4 linked regions of the Homo sapiens genome follow. The protein of the gene in region 2 purifies or fractionates together with the protein of the main gene of each other region. This does not show direct contact. Each region holds a gene or a part of one and is shown on either strand. Other genes may lie near its edges.

The links.
Region 1: the proteins of VSIG4 (region 2) and INTS7 purify together in Homo sapiens (affinity purification with mass spectrometry; 4 studies listed by BioGRID and IntAct, with this or other methods). This does not show direct contact.
Region 3: the proteins of VSIG4 (region 2) and SLC25A15 purify together in Homo sapiens (affinity purification with mass spectrometry; 4 studies listed by BioGRID and IntAct, with this or other methods). This does not show direct contact.
Region 4: the proteins of VSIG4 (region 2) and INTS4 purify together in Homo sapiens (affinity purification with mass spectrometry; 4 studies listed by BioGRID and IntAct, with this or other methods). This does not show direct contact.

The regions. Positions count from the first base shown.
Region 1 is NC_000001.11:212,032,558-212,039,819, forward strand, and holds the start of INTS7 (integrator complex subunit 7), read right to left. Parts: upstream 3,001-7,262; 5' UTR 2,881-3,000; coding exon 2,787-2,880; intron 1-2,786. Other genes in the region: DTL (denticleless protein homolog), read left to right, coding at 3,334-3,385. UniProt on the Homo sapiens protein: Component of the integrator complex, a multiprotein complex that terminates RNA polymerase II (Pol II) transcription in the promoter-proximal region of genes.
Region 2 is NC_000023.11:66,037,070-66,044,866, forward strand, and holds the start of VSIG4 (V-set and immunoglobulin domain-containing protein 4 isoform 1 precursor), read right to left. Parts: upstream 3,012-7,797; 5' UTR 2,930-3,011; coding exon 2,875-2,929; intron 1-2,874. UniProt on the Homo sapiens protein: Phagocytic receptor, strong negative regulator of T-cell proliferation and IL2 production. Potent inhibitor of the alternative complement pathway convertases.
Region 3 is NC_000013.11:40,784,710-40,792,610, forward strand, and holds the start of SLC25A15 (mitochondrial ornithine transporter 1), read left to right. Parts: upstream 1-4,901; 5' UTR 4,902-4,954; intron 4,955-7,901.
Region 4 is NC_000011.10:77,879,664-77,886,685, reverse strand, and holds part of INTS4 (integrator complex subunit 4), read left to right. Parts: intron 1-1,769; exon of another isoform or gene 1,770-1,906; intron 1,907-2,733; coding exon 2,734-2,854; intron 2,855-7,022. UniProt on the Homo sapiens protein: Component of the integrator complex, a multiprotein complex that terminates RNA polymerase II (Pol II) transcription in the promoter-proximal region of genes.

The sequences.
Region 1 (7,262 bases), on a different chromosome or scaffold from region 2:
GCCCCGCCTCCCAGGTTCACGCCATTCTCCTGCCTCAGCCTCCCAAGTAGCTGGAACTACAGGTGCCCACCACCACGCCTGGCTAATTTTTTGTATTTTGTTTAGTAGAGACAGGGTTTCACCATGTTAGCCAGGATGGTCTCGATCTCCTGACTTCGTGATCCGCCCGCCTCAGCTTCCCAAAGTGCGGGGATTACAGGCGTGAACCACCACGCCCGACTGACTCTGGTTATCTTTCTATACTCATTGCCTATTACTTTGCTCCAGATAACTGCATGCAAAGGAGGCTTCTACCTCAGGGCCTTTGTACTTGCTGTTCTTCCACTTGATTGAGGAGGTCTTTCTTGCCTATACTTCATAAAATAAGAAATCAACTCCAGCCCCAGATCAGTTTTCTCCAGTCCCTTTCATTGCTTCATTTTCCTTTATAATATGTATCACTAACTGTCACGTTTGCTATATTTGCGGAGTGTCTGCATCTGCTGTCTAGAATGTAAGCTCTATAGGGGCAGGAGTTTTGTCTCATTAACTGCCATGTTCCTAGTACAAAGCCCGATCAAATAAGTCATGTGTCTGAGTGTGTATGCTGAGGTGGGGGAGATATTTCAGAAACAGTATTCCTTGGAGTTTGGGAACGAAAAAAAGAGTTGGAACTTGTAGCCTTCTGACCTTTAGCTCACAAAACAGAAATACTTTAACAGGTACAAGATGAAATGACTCAATATTTAAAATACTCAACTATATTCTACACGAAACTGGCTATTTCTATAACTTAATTTCCTAACAGCTTTAAAAGTTACTACAGATGAGATGAAAAAGAACAAGTCATCTTTCTGAGCCTGAGATTCACCTGTAAAACACTCACGCCAGGCATTGCTGGGAGGAGTGCAAATGATCACTTACTCTGTGTCTAAGATTGACACCTGATTTCTTTCCTATAGATATAAAATATTTTCATTTCAACTCTTCTTTAAAAAGGAAAAATTGTGGTTTTTTTCTTACAACTGCAAAATTTGAGGAATTAAACCATTCTAGACTCCTCTTCAGTGCCCCATCTTTATCCCTGTTCCACAACCACTATCCTATTGTCAGCATGAGACAAGCTCAGCTGCACCAGAATGGTAGAAAATGTCCTTAGAACTCGTAGGGATATTAGATATTATCCTGACCTGTAACTTTCACTGAGGAATAAGAAAGAAATGTATCAGAATGAGGAGGAAAGTGTTTGAAAAACACATTTAAGGCCGGGCGCGGTGGCTCATGCCTGTAAATCCCAGCACTTTGGAAGGCCGAGGCGGACGGATCACCTGAGGTCAGGAGTTGGAGACCAGCCTGGCCAACATGGTGAAACCCCGTCTATACTAAAAATACAAAAATTAGCCGGGCGTGGTGGCGGGCGCCTGTAATTCCAGCTACTCGGGAGGCTGAGGCAGGAGAACCGTTTGAACTCGGGAGGCGGAGGTTGCAGTGAGCCGAGATGGCGCCACTGCACTCTAGCCTGGGCAACAGAGCAACACTCTGTCTCCAAAAAAAAAGAGAAAAACACATTTAGTATTATACTTTTTTTTTTCAGAGGAGAAAACCCCTAAAGATTTGGTAAGAGAAGGAAAAGTTCAACATAATTTTCTTGGTTGATGGGGGTGCACTAAAGATACTGAGACTCAACCAAAGGAATATCCCATTAGGGGGCTGTGAAATTTTTGTGTTTATCAAAATAAGGTAAAAGCTTTTTTAAGAGCCTGAGAAACTCTTATTTAGACTAACCCACTAAAAATATTCACAGTTTAAAAAATAAACAGAAAAAGAGTCCCAAAAAAGTTAATAGACATGTCCAACTCAGAAAACTGGGAAGTGGCTCAAACCCTTCTGAGTTCTAGTCCAGTTCTCCAACATTATATATTGGCTACGATTAATCAAGATTTAATTGTATACCAGCTGCCGAAATGTTTCCCGTACAATAAAAATCCTCAATATGAAATAAAGGTTTCATATTACTAGTCGAGTTCTTTACTAACAAATTTCCGACCTTGCCTCCCATATCCACATCTAAGAAGGGAGGTATATCTCTTCAGCATTTACTAAATGCTTCTTTTGCATACCATTAAGTCACTTAATACAATTCTGCCGGCTCAATGGTACTGTACCCACTTTGCAGACGACAAGCCGAGGCTAGATGAAGTTAATCATAAAATCAGCGGCATTGAAACTTAACTCAGTGTAACCCCAAAGCTCCCTCTACACCAAGCTGCTCCCTGTACGGCAACAGAACTCCTGGAACTTGTCCGCAGAGAATGAGCAGGGCCCTTGCTTTTTTATGGTCTTGGCCAGGTTTAGCCTGCCTTGTAACCCGCAGGTAACAGAGCTATGGAAATCAAATGAATCGCTGTCAAGTCGGTGCAAGATTACTATTCAGCACATTTCATGAAGACCTGGTCTCAACTGAACAGACTGAAAACCAATTTCACAATTTCTTTGCAGTGTCTCTTAGAAACTAGCCACTGTCACTGCTTAGAAAATCGGGGGACTGCTCCCTCAAGTGGTCAAAACGGGCCTCTCACTAGAGCTCGCTACTTGTTTAGCCGGTATAAGGCCAGTCACACAATCCTGCAAATTTCCCGCAACCTCCCGAAGGGGTCAAAGCCCACGCCCCAGCAAAAGCACAGGCGCTCCCCGCCCAGCGAAGACATGCGCATGCGCCTATCCGTCTTCTCCCAAAGCAACCACCACCTGGTGGCGCCACTTCCCCCCACGCCTGTTTCACCCATTCAGCCCTCTCTTTCGAATACCTTTGTCCAATTCCATAAGGGCAGAGTTGGCATCCAGTTCCTGTTCGCCATAGCCGGCATCTGCCAGGAAAGACTTAGTTGAGTTTGACGCCATGACCCGAATAGTTACTCGACTAGCCTAGTCAGAAAGCTTGCAAACTCTACCCCAGGACCGCCATCTTCCCCCGCCGCCTTCTTGCTGGTTTTTCTTCCGCGCGCTGTCAAGCCCTGTTACGCATGCGCCCTGGTCACCCCGCGGTTTGTCCGCGCCTCTGCTACCCCCTGCGCAGGCGCTCAAGGAGCTCTTGGACTCCAGGTTCCCGCGGCTGGGAGAAAAGGAGGCGGGGATCCGAAGGGGGAAATGACTCTGAGGCGCCCGGACGTCGCTCGGAAGCCAATCAGAGAGCGTGACGTCAGTTTGGCGCGGAGTTTGGCGGCCGGGGCTTACAGTGGCGGGAGTTGGAGGCGATAACGATTTGTGTTGTGAGAGGCGCAAGCTGCGATTTCTGCTGAACTTGGAGGCATTTCTACGACTTTTCTCTCAGCTGAGGCTTTTCCTCCGACCCTGATGCTCTTCAATTCGGTGCTCCGCCAGCCCCAGCTTGGCGTCCTGAGAAATGGTGAGTAACGGTCCCAACCGCTGCTCGGAGCTGGCGGAATTCATTTCCCCCGAAACACACGCCACCTCCGACCAGGGCCGACTCCAATTCTGAACTCAGCTTCTGAGTTCTCCCATGGCAAGGGTAAATTAGTGTTAGCAGGGACTACTAAAGAAAGCTGTACTTTCATCCCCTCGGGACACTTGTAATCGTAATCGGGCTTTTAAAATCGTAACGTAGGCAGGGACGTCGAAATAACTGCCTTCCAAGGCCCCTTACAGCTTACATCTCCATTGCGCGTTAACGGGAAAATGCATGCATTTGTGTGTATATGTTTCCTTCAACGGTTATTTGAGATGCTCAAAACTCCTAATCATTGATTAATTCATTCGTTTGTTGTAGAATCTTAGTGAGCCCAGCTATGTGCTATAGGTATATACCAGTGAATATGACCCGCTGTTAAGGAACTCAGTCAAGCAGAGAAGACAGGATATCTGCTTCTAACAGGAACAAAATCTTATTTTCCCCGTTTACTACACGGTCATAAAAATTTAAATTATAGAGTGAAAGATGCCTGTAACCACATCCGCCAGAGATGACCCCTGTTAATAGATTGAAGTATATTATTCCAGATGTTTTCGACGCTAGAGGTAATACCTATTATTTTCAGAAATCGGATCAAAACGTCCAGTTTTTTCACTTTAATGGTATAAGTTGAACGTATTCCCATGTTAATACGTAGAAATCTAACTTATTTTCTTACGCTAAAACATTGGCAATAAGAGATTTGAGGTTAGATTTGGATGTCATCAACTTAAACTTTTTGGTAAGTTTCAGATAAGGGAGCTAACTACCCAGATTAACCTTGGACAGAAATAAAATCTCACTCATGTGAAGGTCGACTATAGCCAGAGGTTCTTTTTCCCCTTGAAACTATGTGGAAAACGAACCTGAGAAGGGAATTTTTATATTCAGCGATGAGTCTAGGAAAATAATATTGAGAAAGAGACTGAGAAGTAGTCCCTCAACTTCCTGCTAGCAGTCTGAAACTTTATACCATCCTTATTTATTTCCCTCTTAGATAATCTTTGTAATTATACTTAAATGCTCCTCTTTCTGTCTCTCCTGGGACCTTGTTTGAGTAACTTCTTTGTCCTCTGTTTAAGAGTGACAGTACGCACAGTGGCTAAGAACTCTGTCTTTGAAGTTAAACTGCCTGGGTTTTATTATACTTCCACACCTTACTATATGTGTGTTCTGGGGGAGCTGTTCAGCCTCTATTTTGTGACAGATTTTCTCCTAATTCTCCATGTGTTTACCTTTCCCTTCCCTCTTTCCTATTCTCAAGTACTCATTCGTTGTTACATAATAGTCACTGAAATTCATTCGTTATTATATGAAATCTATAGAATCATCTCCTTTCCTCTTCAGTGTTGGTGTTCCATCCTTGACCCCTTTTCTTCTTCTACCTACTCCTTTGGATGATCACAGCCACAACCAGGGCTTCTTCCACTTCTACATACATACAACCTTCTGTTACTTATATAGTAAGTCCTCACTTAATGTCTAGATAGGCTCTTGGAAACTGTGACTTTAGGGAAAACAGTGTATAACTAAACTAACTCTACCATAGGCTACTTGATATAAATAAGAATTGTTTCAGTGGCATATTTTGGTCACACAAACACCACCGAACTTCTAAAGAAAGACTCAAAGTACTTTTAATATTAAATGTTGAAATAATTGTGTGCTATACATATATTTGAGAAAGATTAATAAAAACAGGTGAGATAATTATCCAAGTTTTGGTGTATCAGCGAGTGACCTCGGTCATAGTGGTGGTGGGCTAAATCAAGGAATAAATGTTTGCAAAGTGAAAATTGGAAGGAGCACCTCCTACCACCACCCAGGTCAAAAACAATCACAAATATGGCAGCTCACTGAGCCCTTTCATACCAAATCGTTTATTGTCATTCATTTGTATGATTATTGTAAAGTTTACCCATTTTTATTTTACAATGATTTGTATTCATTCATTTTCTGACACACTTATTCCAGCTCAGGGCTGTGGGTGCCCGGAGCCTATCCTGGCAGCTCATGGTACAAGGTGGAAACCAGCTCTAGACCAGACACTATTTCATCACAGGAAGCACTCACACACACTCATTGTCTACTGGGACCATGTAGACACACCAGTGAACCTAACATACACATCTTTGGCATGTGGGAGGAAACCAGAGTACCTGGAGAAAACCCCTATGAACATGGGAAGAGCATGTACAAACTCCACACGGCCAATGGCCTCAAACAGGAATTGATTTTTTCCTCATGAACAGTATAACGAAATGACATTGTACAAAATTATGTTATTGGAAGACTTCCTGTACCTGAGATTCATTTCTATAAAAGCTGTGTGGGTTGATTAGCACCTAGACGGTCAATCCCACAAGCATCTCAAACTCAAATACCCAAAACTGAACTCAGCTTTTCCCCCAAACCTGCAATATTACCAATTTTAGAGAGTGGCCTCATTATTTAAACCTGCCAGAAACCTGAGTAAATTAAAGACTTCTTCATCTTCCTCACAGTTACACATTCAAAACATTTCGTTAAAATCTCTTGAATCCATCCTCTCTTCTTTATCTGTTATGATTATGCATCTTTACTGTATGCTGGATGTGTTCTATTTTTACTATTCCATTTCCCTAGGTTGGGCCCTAATGCCTTCTTGTCTGGATTGTAAGAAGTCTCCCAGATGGCCTCCTAGTTTGTCTGTCTTCGGTTTATTCTCCACATTGCTGCTAATGATCCTTCTAAAATGGAAATCTGATTACTCTTCTGTGTATTTTTAAATTGATATCTAAAAGTTTTTATTATAAACTTAAACAAATGCAAAGAATATAATTTCTGACCATATTGGGAATATTGACATTTTAAAAATAAAAATGCTATATCACTCCTTTAAGTGTATCTAATATAATTTAAATACTATAGTGATTTGATAATCACATCATCCATTTTTTAGAAAAATACAAACTCCTCTTTATCTGCTGGACATTCCATATAGCTGCTTTTTCCTCTTGAATTTATTTCCATTTCATTTCTCCTACAGAATTTCTCCTAATGTAATTTAATTTTATGCTTGAAAAGCTCTTTTACTGATCACTCTGTCATACCCTTCTGTGTCAAAAAATGTGTTTAAATTGCTGTTTTCTGTCATAAGCCTCCAAGTATTAAAACTTCTTTATGGATTGAATTTTCAATTCAATTATTAGTACTATATGATTGATTAAAACAATATAGATTACCAATTTTGATAATTATTAACCAAAAGTAAAATTTTATTGGAAGTCCATCTTTTTAAAGAGATGAATTTGGGTGTTTATGGTCCCTTTATTGAAGGAATTATTTAATTATCTCTTAGTTAAGGTTCCACCAGTTTATTTGTTTTTATTTAAAAATATTTGATACCCAAAAGTTTTTATTCTTTGGATCAGTGCAAGGTTTAAGATTGGGGCACGGGAATGCCTTTCTTTTATAAAGTGGAAGAAAGGAAGTGATGAAGGGAAAGGGAAAAAGTGGTACCTCAACCTTCTCAGAGACATCAGGTTTTTCAGACAGGTGAGTTTTAGAAATGCGTATATAGTCATCCAATTGCTTATAAATGGAGATAACATTTTGAGAAATGCATCATTAGGTGATTTTATCATTGTGCAAACATCACAGAGTATAAACACAAAGCTAGATAGTGTAACTACTACACACCTAAGCTATATATTTTTCCTAGGCTATAAACCTGTGTAGCATATTACTGTATTGAATACCGTAGGCAACTGTAACACAATGGTAAGTATTTGTGTATTTAAACATAGAAAAGGTTCAGTAAAAATAGGATATA
Region 2 (7,797 bases):
AATATAATATATCATATAATATATATTATATAATAATATAATATAATATAAAATATTATATAATAATATAATATAATATATAATATATATTATATAATAATATAATATAATATATAATATATAATATATAATAATATAATATAATATATAATATATATTATATAATAATATAATATAATATATAATATATATTATATAATAATATAATATAATATATAATATATATTATATAATAATATAATATATAATATATATTATATAATAATATAATATAATATATAATATATATTATATAATAATATAATATAATATATAATATATATTATGTAATAATATTAATATATAATATATATCATATAATAATATAATATATAATATAATTATATAATAATATAATATATATAATAATTATATAATACAATATATAATATATATTATATAATAATAATATAATATAATATATTCATAATATATTATATTATATTATATATTTATATACTTATTATATTATATTACTTCCTTTATTATTACTTCCACTTTACTGATAATTACTTATATATAATATATAATAATTATATAATTATTACTGATAATTACTTATATATAATATATAACATTATATTATATTATACTTATTACTGATAAGTATATATACTTATTACTAAGTATATAAACTTATTACTGATACGTATATATACTTATTGCTGATAAGTATATATACTTATTGCTGATAAGTATATATACAGTATTGAGCTTAATGTGGTCCTGAGACCCAGCCTTATAAAAGCAAATGTCTGATGCCTGTGTAATGGCACTGAAGAAAAGAAAGGTTGAATTTACTAGGTGTGTGCTCCTTTATAAGACCCATTCTAGGTCTCTTTCTGAATCCCCTTCCTCCCATCATCACAAAGAGGTTGACATTTTCCATATCTCTATCCCATTCCCCCACATGACTGGCTTCTCTCCCTTTCCTGGAATGCCTCCTGGATGGAGGATTAACTTATATAATAGATGTTTATAAAATGTTTCTGAAATGTTTAAAATGTATATAAAATGTGAATATTAGAAATTTTTTAAATTTTGATTATCTTGACATATCTCTTAGCCCCACAGGAAGAGGCTAGCAGCTTACTCTGGCCGCTACAGGGTTTTTAGCAGTGAAGCTGCAGTCCCACAGAGTTGTCCAGCTGAGAAACCCCTTTAAGACCAGTCAAGTCAACCTCCTCACTGTACAGATGGGCTAGGAACAATGAGGTCCAGGGAGAGGGAAGGTATTATTTGCAGCTCAGCATAACCTGAGCCTGAGGTCTATAGTATAAGATCCTGTGTACAAATGGAAGGCCTGCTTCCAGGTCTGGAAAAGCTCATAGGCTGGGGAAGGAACAAGACACATGAGTGCTCTCTCTCTCTCTCACACACACACACACACACACACACATGAATGCACACACACATACACACACACAAACAAAGGATTTAAATTTAACATTTCTAAAATGCTCCCTCAAGCCCCAGGCTTAAGCCCTAGCTCAAACCAACAGACTTGGAGAAGGTAGAGAGATACATTATAAAACCTGCTAGAGAATGGAAATGTGGTAGTTATAGAAAGAAAAATGTTTTTTCAGGAGCATTAACTCTGCCACTAATGCTCTTTGGCTTGGGGGCAAATTATTTTTTCTCTTGGTTGACTTAATTCAGAGTCTTTTCTAACTCTGAGGTTCCAGAGTGTGATGGGTCACAGAGCCCCAGGATAGGGTAACCTAATCAGAGTCAGCTACGGAAAGCTGGATTCTTTCTGACCTAACAAGTGACACCAAGCTAACACCTATCCAGCCTTTTTCTCTAGGGATGATAGGGAAGCAGCAAAATCCCCCTTTACCCTATATTGGATCTCACTTAGCTGTTACCCAGGTTGAGTTTCCTGAAAATCCATCTCACTTCTCAGGAGTGTAGATGAGGATAGAGCTTCCCAAGCTCCAAGGAAATAATGCCACTATGGAATAGTCCATCCTCCTTTGGGATTTGTATCCAGCCCATAAATAGCCCAGACAAATTGAGCCATGTCTATAGGGAAGTGAGTTATCCCAGGAATGGGTAAGAAACCAAGTCCTATGAAGACCAGTTGAAAAAGCTGGGGCTGTTCAGCTTGGAGGAGAGAAGAGTCAAGGAGACATAGTACTTGTCCTCAGGGCTTTGAAGGGCTATCACAGGGCAAGGAAGCATCTATGTTCTGTGTAGCCCCAAGAAGCAAAGCTGGGGTTTTTGGATGGAAGTCAGAGGGAACTGGATTTAGTTCAACACAAATAAGAACTTTCTAACAGTTGGAGCTGCTCCTGGATGGACTAGATGGTCTGGGGAGGTAGTGAACAGTGAAATCTCAATCACTACTGGATGTTTCTGAGCACTTATTCATGACAATGAAGGGTGGTATAGGTTACTTCTATAGTCCTATCCAACTCTTAGAAAACACTCCTTCTTCGGGGGCTGTATATTTTAACAGAGACCAAAGCTTGGAAGCAGAGTGGTTAAGTCCAATTGTAGAATTTTAGATGAGAGACAGCAGATGGAGGAAAGATTCGGATGTCATTGGGAACCTTCTTGATGCCCCTGAGATACAAGCCCTAGAAAATAATGCAGATGTTTTCCAAGAGAAAAATCCTTTTTCAATTTCTGCCCAAACTTGCCTTCTGGCTTCTTCAGCAGCCTTCAACTACATCCATCCGTTTTGCTCAAGGCTGAGAGAGCCTGCAGAGTTTGGCTGAGAAGACTCACCTGCCCAGTAGGAATAGGCTTTCCATAGTAGACATTAAACACCAACCCTCTAGCCTTTTGCCTAAGCCAGCAATGGCAGCCAGGCCCCCCTTTCTGCCTTACCATAAGTGTCCACTGTTAGGTGCCCCAGGAGTAGCAGGCCCAGTAAGATCCCCATCACAGCCAGAGCTACTTCTGTCCTTTCTTCCAGCCTCCTGCTACCAAAGAGGCTCAAACTTCTGGTGGCCGCCAGCGTCTGTGACTGCTTACTTCCCTTCCTTCCCTATATCTCTCACTCAAACTCCTAGTCCCATCACACATTCCCCTTCCTTCCCTATTTCAGTACAGGTCATGTGGGGTGCCCCCCTTCCCCCACCTCCTTGGGGTTGGAGGTTCCAGGATGAGTGAAGCAATTCTTCCCCCTGCTAGGGTATTGACTTGACTTTCCTTGGAGCCAATGGGGCTTTCTGGTCTTTGATCTCCTAGGCTGTATTTATTTTGAGTCTCCTCCACAAGATTCAGAGGTTGTGGGGGCGACCTTTGGGATGAGTCTTCCCACTCCAGTATGGCGGTGTTTTCCTTTGTGGTGAGCCCAGGGAGAAGAGATCAACTTTGCTGACCTACCCAATTTTCATTAGTTGTACTGTTAACCCTTGCCTGTGCAGCCTATGCAACTGGACAGGGTGTTGGGCCCGGGGTGCTTTTGGGCTTAAGAGTACAAGAGTTTAGTGTATTAAAGGGCTTTCTACACATCAAAGCTTGAATAATTGACAAGCCAATGGATAAGGCTGTTATGGGTGAATATGCCTCATATCTCATATTGGGGAAGCTCTTTGAATCACTTTCTACAATGGCTCCACCTCTCTGATGGTAAGGGAGAATTCATTTTCATTAATGTTCTCCATGCTTTTTCATAAGGAATTTATTTTTTACTTCTTTTAAGGGAAATTTAAGCCTAGCCTCCAGTGCAGCAGCCCATTAGTGGTATGCTGTATTAGGTTGAATTTTTCATTGACTTCCAATTGGTACAGGCCCTTGACCTACAAGAGAGTAATATTATGCCTCCTAGCAAAGCTCAACTGCTCCAGAAATTGCTCCTCTTCACAGGCCCCAGAGTGACTGTAATTTCATCAGCAGTCTAACTAGGTTTGGCACTGCGCTTTGTCTACTAAGCTTTGAAACAATAAGCACTTTCAAAAGCACAAATACATCCCAAAAATTCATACTGCACTGTAAGTAACAGCTAAGCTTAGTTTACTCTTTGATTGGAGGGATAGGAAAGGACTTGGTCAGGGGAGGGAGGAGTTTGTGCAGAGATGGGGAGTGGGAATATAAAGAAACATACTTGCCAAGGGGTGGCTGCATGCAGATGATTTGGAGCTGTGCACGGGCTAAGGAGACATTCCAGCATTTCAGGACACATTATTACATGGAATTCTATCAATCACCTCTGCCTCTAGGGCCCAATCCCCCTTGGCTGGTTGTTCCTTGTTTTTTGAGTACTGCACTCATTCCATCTCACTGGAAATTTCAGCCATTTTTTCCCACCGGGTCCTCACTCAGGAAACCCTGAACTTCACAGAACCCTCCTTTGATATTTTTCAACCAACACCCTATCACCACTACACCACCACCACCGCACAGACACACACACACACACACACACACACACGCACACACATACACACACACACACCCCTCCCCTTCCCCGCTAAAAAGCCCACTGGACAGATGTAAATTTCTGCCTGGCCAGGTGATTGTGTGTTTTGTGCTACCTCTTGCATTTTATTAGGACCTCCTGGATCTGAAGATAAATAAATGTCCTGGGGAGTATGCACAACATTACTTCAAGGCTGGGAAAGACTTCCAGTCTTGCAGTAGGCTCAGTAGCCCTCTTGATTAGTAAAAGAATTGGATGAGAAGTCAGAAACCTGGAGATAAGCCTGGCTCTGTGTCTACTTCATTCTGAGATCTTGAACAAGTCAAATCTCTCTGAACCTCAGCTTCCCTAATTGTAACATGAACATAATTATACTTGATGCTTGTATCTTTTCAGATTTATAAAAATCAAACTATACTATACATACAATAACAACTATATAATGATAGTTGCTATTTAAAATCTTTTACTCTTCCAGTCACTGAATTAAGCACCTTGCATGGGTTATTTCCCTTGGTTCTTACAACCCCTCAGGTGGGTATTATTGCACATACTCTTGTATCTCTCCCTACCACTCTATACTCCCTTACACTACTTTTCTTTTTCATTGTAGAGCCCACATATTTGTTGAATGAATGAATTCAATATATCCCCATTTTACAAATGTGTCTAAAACCCAGAATGGTGAAATCACTTACTTTTATAGAGGGTGCCTAGACAAGATTCAAACTCCTAGCTATATGCCTCCAGAAATGATACTGTTAAGTAACACACTATTCTGCTTCATTCACACCTTTAATGACCACTTCTACAATAGTTCCAGGTCTTTTCTGGATGTTGTGAGGGAGAGAAAAGAAATGTTAGGTATGGTCCCTGTATAAGTGAGATTTTAGTGTAAAGGAAAGACAAACACATATGAACCACTAATACAAGGTGAATTATTAACTGAGCTGTAAAACTTGTGGTTTGGGCAGTATTTAGTGAAGGAAATAGTAGCGTGGGAAGGCTTCCCAGGTAAAGTGATACTAAAACTACCATTTGTAGAACTCCTGCTCTGTGCTGTGCACATTATCCCTAGGCCTTACCTCACAAGGAAGACATTATGAATAACCTTTCCTTATTGAGAGAACTGAGGTCTGGAGGTACCGTGGAACCTGCCCATGGTCACACAACTGATAAATGACAGAAGTGTAATTTACCATCCAAGTTGGTGTTTCAAAAAATTGTACCTTTGATACTCCATGCACCAGGGCATGAGCCAGAAAAGATGAAGTGGTTGAAGAGGAGAGAGATGGATAGTTACTTTAATTCAAGGGGTCCACGTTTTTCTTATTTTCAAGCTCAGTGCTTCATGAGATGATACTGTGCATGTGGTAGGAGTTCACAGAATGTGGGTGAGCAGCAGAGAAAATGACTCACACCCTTTGAGGCCCAATATTCAGAGGTCACTGTGGCTCTGTGTCTATTTCTACCCCCATAGCCCACCTTTCTAGACAAAGGTTGAAAGGTCAGGTTGGAGAAATTTATCAATGTGTAAACATTATCTGAGACCCTCCTGTGTGTATGTGCACCTTGGGCTTACTGAGTTGGAGGGAAGCAGTGGTACAAAGAGTAAATCCACACAGGCCCTGCTCAAGGACACACACACACACACACACACACACACACACACACACCCCTATAAGTACTACAAATAAACATAAATGCACAGATACATATGGTCACACATTTGTGTATAGCTATACATATGTATATAATATGGCCTTAAGCACAAACGTGAGCACATTGATGTACAACACACAAAATATACACACAGAGACATGTAAGCACAGACACACAAAATATGCATGCAAACACACAAATACACATAGACCTGCACATAGACATGAGAAAACAAGCAATGAAACACAGATTCATACACTTAAGCAGGACATAGGTAGATAATACATGCATATAAACATATGAACACTTAAATAAAAACACAGATATAACATACATATACAGAGAAATACACATATAAACATCAACCTAAAAATACATAGAAAGATAAACATGAGGGTTTAGAAGAAAACTAACAATAACAGGCCTTACATATTAAGGGACAAAGGAATGGCAGAAACTGTTTTGTACAATGGGAGTTGAGAAGTGGTAGCAATCCCTATGGACTTCAGTGGTTTAGGAAAGCTTTCTAGAGGAGCTGGAGTGTGGGCTGGGATGTGAGATTTGGTTAGCATTGGATAGGCAAAGAGGATGGGGAAAAATTCCAGGTAAGTGGTAGAGAAAGAGCCAAAGTCCAGAGGCAATCAAAGGCAAGAATGATTCTGATGAACAGGGAGAGTCAGTTGGACTTTAGCTTGGTGTATATTTAGAAAGGCAGGAGAAGAAAAAGCTAAGCCAGATTGTGGAGGGTATTGAAAATAAGGCCAAAATGCCTAGACTTGATCTTAAAGACTTCTATGGGAGCCGTAGAAACTTCTATGGTGAAACGGGGGCCTGCTGCGGTTGAAAGCAGCTTCTTAGGACCAAATCTGTTTGCAGAATATCAATGGAATAGGATGGGGAAATTGGAAGCAGAAAACTGAGAGACTAATTAGACTATTGGTTGTATAATGCAGTGGAAAGAGCATGGGAATGGGCATTAGGAGACCCGGGTTCATTCACCTCTCTAGGCCTCAGTGTTCCCATCTATACTCTAAAGGTGTCATATTCACCCATGGATTTTCAACCTATGTTCTGGGGATCCCTAGGAGTTCTGTAGCAGGGAAGAGGAAGGGAATAGACAGAAATTTAGGTGACTGGATTTCAACCAATGGTGTACTAGAGACAACTTAAATTCTAAGAGCTGATTGTGTGAATTTATTCCTAACTCTGTGTTTAGTGACATTGTGTTGGTAGTTTGAAAGAAGCCATGATGAAGATATTTACAAGACCCTAGACGTAAGACCAGGCATATAATAGGTATTGAATAAATGCATATAATGCACTTTTGATGTTTCTGACACTGTTCTAGGTCCTGGGGGATATAGTAATAAAGAAACAGACATGAAACTTAAATTTTAATAGAAAGAAAAAAGTTTAAAAAACAACCAAGCAAATATCAAAAGGAAAATCAATCATTATATAATTATATATTATATGGCTCAGCCATGATATACCAGTAACATAAACACTGAATCTTGCTCTCACCACCAACATTGTCTATAAATAATTTATTTATTAATAATAAGTTGTGGAATATGAAGACAGGAAATACTCATATATGTATGTGCAGGACTTGGGTGAATAGAGGTGAGGGAGTGAATTAGAGCTAGATTTTTAAGAATAACAATAGCAATATGAGCATGTTATTCAGAGATATGAAGTCAAACACTGGCCAAAAAAAAAAA
Region 3 (7,901 bases), on a different chromosome or scaffold from region 2:
ACATTCCAAGTCTGTCCTCTCACCTCTGACCTGCGTCACACTTGCCACCCATCACAAAGCCAGCTGCTTTGAAATCTCTGAATCGTGCAATTCCAAGTACAGCAAACGGTTACCTGGAGCAGAGAGGTCAGTGTGTTGACGTGTTTCCTGTTTGGAACCTAGGTCTGAAATACCATTGAATTGAGCTACCTCTATAGACAGCAGTGATCCATGTCTCTAAAATGTTGTTCTCAAGAGGCCATAGGATTCCTAGGAATTTTTTTTTTTTTGAGATGGAGTCTCACTCTGCCACCCAGGCTGGAGTGCAGTCGCACAATCTTGGCTCACTGCAACCTCCGCCTCCCAGGTTCAAGCGATTCTCCTGCCTCAGCCTCCCGAGTAGCTGGGATTACAGGCACGTGCCACCAAGCCCGGCTAATTTCTGTATTTTTAGTAGAGACAGGGTTTTACCATGTTGGTCACGCTGGTCTCAAACTCCTGACCTCAGGTGATCCACCCCCATTAGCCTCCAAAGATGCTAGGATTACAGGCATGAGCCACCACACCCGGCCAGGATTCCTAGGAAATTACACTCAGAACAAAGTTTGCATGGACACTTTCTTAATTTAGTGCCAATCAGATGATTTTACAATCACTTCTCTGAGCATCTGAGAGATAGGAAGCATTTTTAACATCTATATATTTATTTCTTTCTTCCTAAAATAAAGATAGCAGAAAGAGCCACTGTTGTGGGGGATTTTAAGCTGTGGAGGTGACTTTTATAAAATATTATAGAAGGAGATGTATTTCAGAAGAAAGAACTTCCAGTTCCTGCAGCCCTTTTGCCTTTTTTTTGAGACAGAGTCTCGCTCTGTCACCCAGGCCAGAGTGCAGTGGCCCAATCTCGGCTCACTGCAACCTCCACCTTCTGGGTTCAAGCAATTCTCTGCCTCAACCTCCCAAGTAGCTGGGATTACAGGCACCTGCCACCATGCATGGCTAAATTTTTGAATTTTTAGTGGAGACGGGGTTTCACCATATTGACCAGGCTGGTCTTGAACTCCTGACCTTGTGATCCACCCGCCTCAGCCTCCCAAAGCACTGGGATTACAGGCGTGAGCCACCACATCTGGCACCTCTTGCTTTTAATAAGAAGCCTCGGCTGGGCTCAGTGGCTCATGCCTGTAATCCCAGCACTTTGGGAGGCCGAGGCAGGCGGATCGCTTGAGGTCAGGAGTTCAAGACTAGCCTGGCAAACATGGTGAAACGCCATCTCTACTAAAAATACAAAAAAATTAGCCAGGCATGGTGGCGGGCGCCTGCAATCCCAGCTACTCGGGAGGCTGAGGCAGGATAATTGCTTGAACCCGGGAGGCAGAGGTTGCAGTGAGCCGAGATCGCGCCATTGCTCTCCAGCCTAGGCGACAGAGCAAGACTCCGTCTCAAAGAAAGAAAGAAAAAAAGCCTCTGGGAGGGAGCACTGCACAGTGTACCAGCTGAGCGCCTGACCTTTGGAGTTGGACAGAACTTTGCTGAGTCCCTGCTTTTCTCTTAGCGCCTGTGTAATGTGGCCTCCCAACACCTTGGTTTCTTCTCCAACCTCATTCTCACCAGCCATTGGGCTAGGCAAGGGGACACAGCAACTAAGTTGGACAGAAGACAAATAAATGAGAGTTTGTGCAAAAAACCCAAAAAAGGTAACTTTGTAGACTATGGATTAAAAATCTGAGCAAAATTCCGATAGTTTCTTATAGAACAAATTGGGAGGCATGGAGAGGAGAAATGTGGAAGGCTTGGGAGTGATGAGAGTTTGGAACAGCCCTTGTCAGGATAGGAGAGGAAGGGGCTCAAGGAAGACAAGAGAAAGCACTAGGCTAGGGCCCAATGGCTCGAGGAGAGTACCAAGCGCCCTGCATGGTGGACTGTTCCAGCAGGCTGATGGAACACAGGGGGTTCAAAGGAACCAGTGATGCAGTCATGCTGTGGCTGGGGTTTACAAAAGGCTAAGTGACTCACTAAAGGTCACACAGGGACATTTACACAAACATCCTGGCCCCAAGTCCAGTGCTCTTTCTAATCTATAACAGGGTCTTTCCTTTTTTTTTTTTTTTGACAGGGTCTTGCTCAGTCGCCCAGGCTGGACTGCAGTGGCATGAACACAGCTCAAGAGCTCTTGCCACAGCTTCCCCAGTAGCTGGGACTACAGGCATGCGCCACCACACCAGGTTTAAAAAAATTTTTTTTTGTTTTGATTTTTAGTAAAGACAGGGGCTCACTGATACTGTCATTGCAAAAATTATAACCAAGAAAATTATGATGGTCAAAGAGATCTGACCTAACTGACTCTATCTTGCTTCTAACCTCCAAACTGTCCTTGTTCTGGGTGTAGGCCCAACTAACTCTGGGAGGAGCTTAGATTATAGTTTAGCGTTGAAACAAAGACGACAACAGCCCTTTCCCAAAACAAACCCCCTTCCTGCCTGGGGACTAGGCCGCCTTGTAGGACTAACAAATTAGCCACAAGTTTACAAATTATGGTTTAGGAGTCATGCAGCTGGAGACTGCAAGATTCTAAACCTCCCCAAATAGCTCCTCAGGATGACATCACTATTGTAAAACCTAAGATCACAGATAAGATTGAGATATTTTTGCAGAGCCTGTACTTGATGGATTGATCAGCTGGCACTACCCAGATTGATAAACTGCCTCATCTGGTTTTGTGGCCCCCACCCAGGAACCGACTCAGCGTAAGAGGACAGTTTAGACTCCCTATGATTTCATCTCCAACATGACCAATCAGTACTCCCACTCACTGGCCCCCTACCCACCAAATTATCCCTAAAAACTCCAAACCCCGAATTCTTGGGGAGATTGATTTGAGTAATAATAAAACTCTGGTCTCCTGCACAGCTGGTTCTGCGTGAATTAAACTGTTTCTCTATTGCAATTCCCCCATCTTGATAAATTGGCTCAGTTGAGGCAGCGGGCGAGAAGAACCCATTGGGCAGTTACATCACTGTGTTGCCCAGGTTCAACTCGAACTCCTGGGCTCAAGCAATCCTCCTGCCTCAGCCTCCCAACATGTTGGGATTACAGGCATGAGCCACCACACCCAGCCAAGTCTGTCCTTAATCAGGGTTCCTTTGGGTCTCATTTTCTGAAGCTGCAAAAGCTATTGGACCAGGTGACATTGCCAACCCCTTTAAGCTGCTGTAACTGTAGTTTCAGCTGCTGGATCTGCTTTCAGTTAGTTATGTTCCCCATCACTTTGGACAAGTCATCCCAACTCCCTGGCTTGTTTTTGTAACTCGATTACAGTCCAGAAGCCCAAGTTCTAAAGTGCTGATTCTGATGAGTGTCCATGTACCAGGCACTCTGATCCCATCATAGCATCTACTACAGCCTGGGAGGTCTACTCAAGTGTGCATTCATGTTAAGCACTAACACCAATTAAATCACTTAAATAACGTAGGTAATTATCCAATAGCACATCCAGACGTGGTGGCTCACACGTGTAATCCCAGCACTTTGAGAGGCCGAGGCAGGCAGATCACCTGAGGTCAGGAGTTCGAGACCAGCCCGGCCAAGGTGGTGAAACCCTGTCTCTACTAAAAAATACAAAATTAGCTGGGTGTGGTGGCGCATGCCTGTAATCCCAGCTACTTGGGAAGCTAAGGCAGGAGAATCGCTTGAACCCAGGAGGGGGAGGTTGCAGTGAGCTGAGATTGCACCATTGCACTCCAGCTCGGGTGACAGAGTGAGACTCTGTCTCAAAAAAAAAAAGAAAAAAAAAGAAAAAAATAATAATCCAACAGCACATCTAAACAAGGCTTAAAGTTGTAAAATAAAATTACACTGTGTGGAGGGTGTGTGTGTGTGTGTGTGTGTGTGTGTGTGGGTGAGAGAGAGAGAGAGAGAGAGATGAGGTCTCTGTCATCCAGGCTGGAGTGCAACAGTGCCATCATAGCTCACTGCGGCCTCCAATTCCTGGCCTCAAGCGATCCTCCCGCCTTGGCCTCCCAAATAGCTAAGAATAGAGGCATGTGTCACCACACCTTTTTTTTTTTGTCGTTGTTTGTTTGTTTTTATGAAACGGAGTCTCGCTGTGTAGCCCAGGCTGGAGTGTAGTGATGCAATCTTGGCTCACTGCAACCTTCACCTCCCAGATTCAAGCGATTCTCCTGCCTCAGCCTCCCTAGTAGCTGGGGTTACAGACACGCACCACCACGCTGGATAAATTTTTGTAATTTTAGTACACGGGGTTTCACCATGTTGGCCAGGCTGGTCTTGGACTCCTGACCTCAGGTGATCCGCCTACCTCGGCCTCCCACAGTGCTGGGATTACAGGCGTGAGCCACCATGCCCGGCTAATTCCTGTATTTTCATACTTAGTTGTATTTCCTATTAGGGCCTTGGATCCCGAGTATAATTTTGTACTCAAATATAATTTATAAATAAGGCCTTAGCCTCCCAACAAGGTCAAAGTAGCTAAAAAGTAAGTCCTCCCAACCACTGACATTACCAGCCCCCAGCCCCCAGTCCCAGCCCAGCGGGCTAACAAGGGTCCGGCCTCAGAGAGGGTCTCGGGGATCCCAGAGGTGGGAAAGTCTCCGGAGGCGCAGGCCCCGCTCTCCACCTTCACCAGGGTCGGCGGCAGCACCACGCCGGGTCGCGGGCTGGCTGTGCGCGCCGCGGCCCCACGCCCACTTCCGCTTCCCGTGCTGGGGGCGGTGGCAGGGCCGGTGGGCGGTGGCGGCTCCCGGTCTCGGCTCGGGCACGGCCCTGGGCAGGCCGCCCGCCAGCCGCAGGGGCGCTCCTGAGCTTCGCGGGGCCGCAGTCCGGGATGCCTGCGCGAAGGGAGGGGCGAAGGGCCGGCCGTTGCCGACGTGGGTGTTAAGTGGCCGCCCCAGCCGGCGACCCGGAGCCGAGAGCGGGCGGCGGAGCCTGAGCTGGACGCGGCCACGCCGGCGCGGCGGTGAGCGCAGCCCGGTCTGGCGCCTGCAGCTGCGGGGAGCGCGCCAGGCAGAGGGAGCGGGGAGCGGGGCGCGGGGCGGGCCTCGGTGTGCGGGCGGCGTGACCTTCCCGAGCGGCGGGGGAAGCGGCCAGCGTCGCAGCGCACGTGCCGCGGGACTCGGAGAATCTCGGGGTTGTCGGCCTCCTTCCTGCAGTGCCCACCTGGTGGGAACTTTTGTCCTTGTTTGCCCCCAAGTCCTGTCATTTGGCTGCGGGGCTCCGCGCCTCAGGGGCGCCAGTGCTGGGCAGCATGGAGCCGCTTGTGAATGGAGACTTGCTGGCTGCCCAGGAGTGGGCGGCTGGGCAGGGGCGGTGAACGTTTAGGGTCCGGCCAAGAAAGTTGGAAGTCGTCTCCCTGACCTGTTCCTTGCGAGGCCCGGGAGGAGACGCGCCTGGCCGGTCCTTGGCGGCGAAACTGATTTGCATCTCCACGCTTTACCTAAAGCCCGGGCTCTGGGGACTGGATGGCGAGCTGGCCTGCGGCTCCTTTAGCCAGAAGCTGGGATCTTCCCGCAGCAGTTCGTGTTCCCTGGTGGAAAATGCAGCCTCATCTACTGACTCTCCCTTCCAAAAAAAAGTTATTTTCCCCAAGGGTCGAGAAAAGTGGGTGGTCGGCACTGTTGTTCCTCAGTTGCACCCTGGTGTAATTTGAGAGAGGGGTCAAAGGCGCTGAAAAGATTCTTTTTTCTATTCCAAGTGCTACAGCAAGCTCATAAATCAATTTTAATTCATGCTGAACAGTCTTGCCTCCTCCAAGCCCTGTGTCTTCTCCAAGCCAGAGCTACACATAATGTGAATTAGCTGCCCACTCCTTCTGAGTGAATCTGTTAGTACCCATCATCGTTTTCTATCCTAATAATTCTAATGGCTATTTGTAGAATTTATTTGTTTGTTTATTTTTTTGAGACGGAGTTTCGCTCTTGTTGCCCAGGCTGGAGTGCAATGGGGCGATCTCGGCTCACCGCAACCTCCGCCTCCTGGGTTCAAGCTATTCTCCTCCCTCAGCCTCCCGAGTAGCTGGGATTACAAGCATGGCCCACCACGCCAGGCTAATTTTGTATTTTTAATAGAGACGGGGGTTTCTCATGTTGGTCAGGCTGGTCTCGAACTCCCGACCTCAGGTGATCCGCCCGCCTTGGCCTCCCAAAGTGCTGGGATTACAGGCGTGAGCCACTGTGCCTGGCCTATTTGTAGAATTTAATGTGTTTAAGTTTGGCTCACCTAACAGGGTTTAATTCTTAGGGACAGATAGAATGTAATGTGATGTGACTTTCCTTCAAAATTAAGAAGGAAGTGTCTGTGCCAAAAGAAATAAGCGCATTGAGGTTTATCTAGGAGGCCACATTGTACTTGCCTCTGTCTGTCTGCTCAGTTGCCCCCGTTTTTTTCTTTCCCAAAAATATAGGGTTGGGTGTTTTGTGTTGCCTTTGGCCAGGTTGAAATACTCAGATTAACGGTTGGTTTGTAGGCACAGGCCTGAAAAGACAGGACTTTGAACTGAATCCTCTGTCACTGACAGTTGTGTGGCCTTGGAGAAGACCTTGTCTTGCTCCAGGCTTTAGTTTGCCTTCTGGGAAAGGATTAGGACCCTGATAAACTTTTTATTTATTTATTTATTTATTTATTTATTTATTTTATTTTTTATTTTCTATTATTATTATTATTTTTTTTTTTGAGACAGAGTCTCACTTTGTTGCCCAGGCTGGAGTCCAGTGGCACAATCTCGGCTCACTGCAACCTCCACCTCCCGGGTTCAAGTGAATCTTCTGCCTCAGCCTCCTGAGTAGCTGGGACTACAGGTGTGCATCACCACGCTGGGGTCATTTTTGTATTTTAAGTAGAGACAGGGTTACACCATATTCGTCAAGCTGGTCTCAAACTCCTGACCTCGTGATCCTCCCACCTCAGCCGGCCCAAAGTGCTGGGATTACAGGCGTGAGCCACCGCGCCTGGCCAGGACCCTGATAAACTTTTTTAGGAAGATACCAGATGGCCACCACCTTTTCAGCCTAGTGAATGGTCCTGTCTCTCCAGACCTATCAACAGCATATAAATCAGTGTCTTGCACTTCTAACTTAGTTGCTTTATTAAGTAATGTGCCGTTGTTGCCACTGGTTTTAAATTTTTTGTGAATAAAGGAGGATTATTGAAGTCTCGTCGTTGGCAAGATGCTTCAAGAGGTTTAAACAACTTCTCCACGGCCAATGTTTCCTGTTGACGTTCAGGGTGACATTGGTGTTAGGAGCGTGCTTGGTGTTCATCTCTGATCCAGCACGATGGGTCACACGGCTCCTCAGTGTGATGAGGAATAAGTTGTTCCTTATTATTTGCAAATAAGTTACTAACACCGTTTGAAAACTGTACAGGATTGGTCGTTGAGTTGGATATTTTAGTCAACATTTATTAAGCCCATGCCTCAACAGTAGTTGACTTTTGTCTAAAGAGAGAGAAAGAAATTCTAGTTTTCCCAAATGCCCAAGGCTCCAACCAAAACATACTGAATCCAGATTTCCAGAGGAAAGTCCTGGCAATTTGGATATTTAATAAGTGCTCCAGGTTATCAAGTGGATTTGGACACAACGGCCCAGGTGTTGTATCTCAAAGTGTGAGTCTGTGGACTGGCACTGTCCGCCTCACTTGGGAACTCATCAGAACAGGCAGAACCTCTGGTCCTGTCCAAGGCTACTGAATCAGAGGCCGCATTTTATTTAGCAAGGCCCCCAGGCTACTCCTGCACACGTTTACATTTGAAGGGCTGGTGGTCTGTGGTGACGGGAAGATGTGTGTGACAGGAAGATGCTTGCGCAGGGCCTTGTTCTAAGAACACATGATGCTTGTGCACGGTGTGGCGTCCCATCAGTCTGATGTGGCTATTTGTGACTGTGTTTGTTTTATAATATTTTTATTAT
Region 4 (7,022 bases), on a different chromosome or scaffold from region 2:
CAGGGTCTTCTTTCCCTGCTGATTCCGCCAAGCCCATTCCCTTGGCTGTGGTTTCGCTGGATAGTAGGTAGGGACAGTGGGAATCTCGTTCATCCATTCATGTGCGTCACTAATTAGATGACAAGGCATTTGGCTACCTTAAGAGAGTCATAGTTACTCCCGCCGTTTACCCGTGCTTCATTGAATTTCTTCACTTTGACATTCAGAGCACTGGGCAGAAATCACATGGCATCAACACCCGCCGCGGGCCTTCGCGATTATTAACTCTTGTAAGCCTAATCTAGGTTACTGTATTCTACCTGATGATCATTCATACTGGCCATTTCCTTCCTCTGACCTACTTGGGCCACAGGTTTCTAAGCTCCACTTTTGGAGTAGACAAATGAAAGAAGGCTTCCAGCAACCATTTCACAGAGGAGTGAAGGCCTTTCACCAAGGACAGTTTTGCTGAGAATGCTGGGAATTTTTTTTTTCTTTTTTTTGAGACAAGGTCTCTGTCTGTTGCCTGGGCTGGAGTGCAGTGGCATGGTCAGCTCACTGTGACCTCAAACTTCTGTGTCCAAGGGATCCTCCTGCCTCAGCCTCCTGAGTAGCTGGAACTAGAGATACACACCACTACACCTGGCTAATTTTAATTTTTTTTGTGTGGAGATTGGGGGGTCTTACTTTTTTGCCCAGTCTCGTCTTAAACTCCTGTCTTCAAGCAATCCTCCCGCCTCAGCCCCGCAAAATGCTGGGATTATAGGCATGAGCCACTGCACCTGCTGAACACAGAAATTATGGCCCCTGTTCATTTGTTTTTCCCATGATCATTGCTGTTTCAGCCCCCCTCTGCCCTTCTTTTTCTTTCTTTCTTTCTTTTTTTTGAGACAGAATCTCACTCTGTCACCCAGGCTGGAGTGCAGTGGCAGCGATCTCAGCTCACTGCAACCTCTGCCTCCCAGGTTCAAGTGATTCTCCTGCTTCAGCCTCCCAAGTAGCTGGGACTACAGGCACACGCCACCATACCCAGCTAATTTTTGTATTTTTAGTAGAGAAGGGGTTTCATCATGTTGACCAGACTGGTCTTGAACTCCTGACCTCAAGTAATCCACCTGGCTCAGCCTCCCAAAGTGCTGGGATTACAGGTGTGAGCCACTGTGCCCGGCCCTCCCCTTCATTTTCTAAAAAAAAATGAAGCCCAAGCACTTGTCTTTAAAGATAATAAGGATCAGGAAACTGAGACACCTGCATTTTTTTCCTATAGTAGGTTTGGGAGCTTGGAGCCTAGAACTAGAGTGGGGAGTAGCAGCTTTAAGAAATAAGGGTAGGCCAGGTGTGGTGGCTCACGCCTGTAATCCCAACACTTTGGGAGGCTGAAGTAGGAAGATCACCTGAGGTCAGGAGTTCGAGACCAACCTGGCCAACATGGTGAAACCCCATCTCTACTAAAGATACAAAATTAGCCGGGCATGACGGTGGGCGCCTGTAATCCCAGCTACTTGGGAGGCTGAGGCAGGAGAATCACTTTAACCCGGGAGGCGGAGGTTGCAGTGAGCCGAGATCATGCCACTGCAGTTCAGCTTGTGTGACAGAGTGAGACTATCTCAAGAAAAGAAAAAAGAAAAAGAAAAAGAAATAAGGGTAGGCTGGGCACAATTGCTCATGCCAGTAATTCCAACACTATGGGAGTCTGAGGCAGGAGGATCACTTGAGGTCAAGAGTTGGAGACTAGCCTGGGCAACATAGCAAGATCTTGTCTCTACAAAAAAATTTAAAAAGAAAATTACCTGGCGTGGTGGCACGTGCCTGTAATCCCCACTCCTCAGGAGGCTGAGGCAGGAAGATCACTTGCGCCCAGGAGTTTGAGGCTTCAGTGAGTTATGATCGTGCCACTGCACTCCAGCCTGGGTGGCAGAGTAAGACCCTGTTTTAAAGAAAAAAAAAGAAAGAAAGAAGTGTAGAATCAGGGGGAGGCCCCATGACCTGAGGAGAGATGAAGGATTATAGGGCAAGTGGGTGAGACATGCCTTCCGCAGTTTCAACATTGACCACAGTTTCAACATTGGAAGACCTGTGTGGTTCCCTACTCTGCCTTCATAAGTATATTTACATAGAGCAGGTCCTAGTCCTAGGATAAGCTTCATTTGTTCCTCTAGTTCCTTTGTGCGCTGCAGTATAGTAGGCTGTCTACACAGGGAGCTGGGAGGTCCCCCAGGATGCTGAGGAAAGAACTCTGTTGCAGTTTATGAGCCTTAAAGAACTGGCCAGTGATTTGAGTGGACTCTTCATTGAGCCGTCTCTCCGTAGAGAGAGAGATAAATGACTTCCTAGCTGCTTGCAATGTAGTGGAAAGAATGCAATTACAAAATAACTCCAAATACTGGTGGTTGGTGATGGATGCTGGGCCATGGTATGATTCAGAGCCAGGGAGGGAGTGCTCTTCTGGTGAAGGTGCCTGAGAACACTTTTCATAATAAGAATTAATATTCTTACCTGTCTTTGCGCTTAATAGAGACACTCTGTTCATATTACTTATTCACCATGAATTCAGGAAATGTTTACTGAACACTGCTTCATGCTGGATTAGGGGAATAGAGATGTCTACAGTGTTGACCTACCCCCAAGGCTCAATCTTAGTAAAGTTGGTGTCATGTTTCTTCTTGTGTTTTGAGGTTCACAACAGATGTCATCATCCATTTTGTTAAATGCTCCTCTCGCTTCTGCCTTTTTCTCATTTCTGTCACCCTTTAGGTCTTATATCCAGATGGCCAGGCTCAGATGATTCACCCCAAGCCTGCAGACTTCCGGAATCCTGGCCCAGGGCGGCACCGGCTCATCACTCAGGTTTATCTCTCCCACACCGCTTGGACAGGTAAGGAGTCAGGACCAGGGTGGGAAGGGAAATATGCTGCTGGAGATCACACCTACCCTTAAGCGTTTGGTTTTTAAAGTTTGAAAAAAATACATGGATGAATCAGGCCTTGTAAGAATTGAACTTAATGAGTTTATAAGCACTCATTAAGTGGGTAAAAAACTGGGTATATTTGGGCTAATTTGCTACAGTGCTTTGATTGCATGAGAGATAAGATTCTGTTGGAAGATATACAGGCGATTATGATAGAATGGAGTCTCATGGAAAGGGCCCTGGTCTGGACACCAGGAGATTATTCTTATCCTAACTGCCACCGACTTGCTTGGTCACCTTAGACAAGTCTCTCCCTTTCTGAGTCTTTTTCCTTATCTTCCAAATGACAATAATAATTCTCAACCTACAAATTAGTTGTGAGGATTTTTAAAAATATTTTTTTTCATTTGCCAACTTATGTCTGAATTGTGAGGATAAAATGGGAGAATACAAGTACAAAGGAGATTACATTTCAAGCCTGTAAGCCTGCTTTAAAAAACTTAAGAAGACCTCAGTCTGCAGAACCTAGAATAGGGGGCAGAATTGGCCTCAGTGGTGTTTCCCAAATAATTGGAGATGGTTCAGGAGCACTGTTACTGGAGGTGTTTAATGCCACCAAATTTGGTTTATTTTAGAGATAGGGAATGCCTTTTGGAATTTTCTTTCACTCTGTGTTTTTAAACACATAATTATAAGGCTATTATTATTATTATTATTATTATTTTGAGACGGAGTCTTGCTCTTGCCCAGGCTGGAGTGCAGTGGTGCAATCTCGGCTCACTGCAACCTCTGTCTGCCTCCTGGGTTCAGGTGCTTCTCCTGTCTCAGCCTCCCGAGTAGCTGGGATTACAGGTGCACGTCACTACACCTGGCTAATTTTTTTGTATTTTAGTAGAGACAGGGTTTCGTCATGTTGGCCAAGCTAGTCTCGAACTCCTGACCTCAGGTGATCCACCCGCCTTGGCCTCCCAAAGTAGTGGGATTACAGGCATGAGCCACTGCGCTGGGCCTTTATTAATGGTTTCCCTCTGTCAGGGTGTTAGATGGGTAATGATGACTTTATGAAGCTGTTGGATGTTAGGGCAGCCCCTTTGGGGTTCTAGTGGTGGTAGGCCTGGTGTAGTTGAGGGAGCATCCAGCAGTTCTGCTACCCAGGACGTGCTTCCCTGAGTATTCCTCATTCCATAATCTGGCTGCCTGGAATGTTTTTGCACTATTTGCCAAACCACTGGCCCCACAGGAAAATAGATTCCTTATTCTAATATCTTCTGCTGAAGGGATCCCGGACATGGGGAAGGAAATGCTGTGGGACAGTATTGTTTTGGGAGGGACAAGGCTCAGGAAAGCAAATTACAGTATGCTGTAGCTCCAAAGATCGTGGAAGGTCTTGAGAGGGTCTGACTTGTCCCTGGTCACACAGCAAGTCATTGCCAAGGCCAGAGTTAGAACTCAGCTGATCTGCCCCCAAGCTCAAGGTTCTTTTTCCTAGGCCCCATTTCCTCTTAAGGTATCCTAGTTCATTGCAGACTTCCTTGTTTTGTATTGCCAGGCGATCCTGAGCCTGAATAATTTTAACTTATACAAGATCACAGCCAGGCCTGGTGGCTTGTACCTGTAATCTTCGGGAGGCTGAGGTGGGAGGATCGATTGAGCCCAAGAGTCTGAGACCAGCATGGGCAATATAGGGCAACCCTATCTCTACAATAGATATATAAAAAAGTTAACTGGGCATGGTGGCATGTGCCTGTAGTCCCAGCTACTCAGGAGGCTGAGGCAGGAAGATTGCTTGAGTCTGGGGGGTCAAGGCTGCAGGGAGCCCTGATCATGCCACTACACTCCAGCCTGGGTAACAGAGCAAGACCCTGACTCAAAAGAAAAAAAAAAAAACCATCAGAAACAAGAAAACAAGATCACCTCCTCTGAATGGTCGCTACCCAGTCACTATTACAAATCCCTGTTTTAATTGTTTATATATAGTGCGTACTGGTTTCAGATGTGTTTTCACATTTAATTACTTACTGACTTTCCCATTAGGATGTAGGCTTCTATAGAGCAGGGAACTTGCTTGTCTTTGCCTCTGTATCTCCATTGTTTTAGTAGCCTGTGTCTCTAGTGCCTGACATGTAGTAGGCACTCAACAAATAATGAAAATTGAATACAAGGTTTTAAATGTGCAATAAAAATTCATTTAATCTTTAGACCAACTCTGCAGTGGAAATTAGTATTCTCTTTTCATTTTACAGATACATAAATGGAGGCCCACATACCTGATCAGTGACAGTGCTAAAGCTGCAGTCACCCTTCCCAGCCCTCACTGTGCTATGTCCCTTCCGGTTTGGGGCACTGAAGTGAAATATGTCTCATTGTAAATGAGCTTGCAGTTTCTTTCTCCTAATCTAGGTGATGGGGCCTGGAGTTTCTAGGGAGCTCCTTCAATCCCTCAGTAGCTCCCCACCAGGGAGGGGCCTCTCCTCTGGGAGGCAGGATGCTGCCACGTAGGAAGCTCAGTCATAGACCATGTTTCAAATTCTGCTTCCTTTGCTGTGTGATCCTGAGAAAGTTATTTTACTTCCCTGTCTCATTAAGATGAGAATAAGAATATAAACCTGCTAGGAGAAATATTCTTCCAGGCATGACGCAGAAGTTGCTTGAGTTATCCTAGATGATCTTGTCTCCTTCTCCCAAGTTCCCCTCCTTCTTGTTTTCTCTCTTCTCCGCTTTACTCCTATGGCATTGCCTTGAATTGCCATTCTTATCAAATGTTGGTAAGGGAATGCAAAATGACCCTGTAGGGCTGAGTCCTACATCAACTCCCTCTGACCTTAGCAGGATTTATTTGTTTTTTTGTTTTTTTGTTTGTTTGTTTGTTTGTTTTGAGACAGGGTTTCCTTCTGTTGCCCAGGCTGGAGTGCAGTGGTGTGATCCTCTCGGGCTCAAGTGGTTCCTCCCACCTCAGTCCCCCTAGTAACTGAGACTATATGCCTGGCTAATTATTTTTATTTTTTGTAGAGACAGGTCTCACTATGTTGCCCAGGCTAGTCTCAAACACCTGGGATCAAGTGATTCTCCTGCCTTGCCCTCCCAAAGTGCTGGGATTATAGGCTTGAGCCTTATCCAGCTCTTACCAGGATTTGGCTTCTTGAAAGTGCTATGCCAACTGGGGCTGTGGTTGTGGTCTGCCACTTGGGATGGAATGGGAGAGTGTGGCAGGAAAGCAGATATAGGTACCTATTTTGATTCCACCCTAAGTGGGAGATTCATCTGGAGCCTGGTATCAGAGAACAGTGTTAGTTTCATGACAGTTACACTCATGGCTGCTGCATGACCCTCATGTTGTCATGTGAGTGTGTGCTTATCACATGGCTGGTACTTGATGATGAGGCTGCACTTAGATCTCATGCTGAAATCTGAGGTGCACTGGATTGCTCTGGCCTTGGGCTGACTGCAAACCTTTCCCTTCCTGGAGGACAGCAATCCAGTCTCTACTCTGACCCATAGAGAGAAGCTTGGATGTAACCAGGAAGAGGTCTGGGGAGGCACTGAGAAGTCCTGGAGTCTCTGCCCTTGTTAATTTAGATCCATCTAGCCTTCATTCCTACCCTCTGAACTTCTTAGCCTTGGGATCATCTTCAACTTACACTTTTTGCTCTGGTTGCACCAAATTAAGGAGACATCCCAAGCTCACTCCATTCCTGGCCTTTGCACTTGCCCTTACATTTTTCTGAAATTCTCTCCCTCTTCTTTATAGAAGCTTGTGGTTAATAGAATGAGTAACTGCTTCAGTTTATGAACTGGGCTCAAATTCTTACCCAGGTGTGCATCTGGGGAGTCTCTGAGAACCTATCTGATTCTTGGGATTTTTGCCAAGATTGTGACAGTCTTTCTTTCATAATGTAGCAGGATAAGAACTCTTGGGGTTAACTGTTTGGCATAGAATGGATATTCTATTCCAAAGCCTTCCTGCGCTCCTCCTCAGTACTTCTTGCAGGCTTGGTTAGAGCGTGTGTTGTACTCCATTGCAACTATCTGTTTCCTCAACCAAACAGCAGGCAACTTGAGGGGAGTTCTTAATTATTCTTGCTAGGACCTGCCACATAGAGACACTAGATGATTATATCGTAAGATAATGTAATGA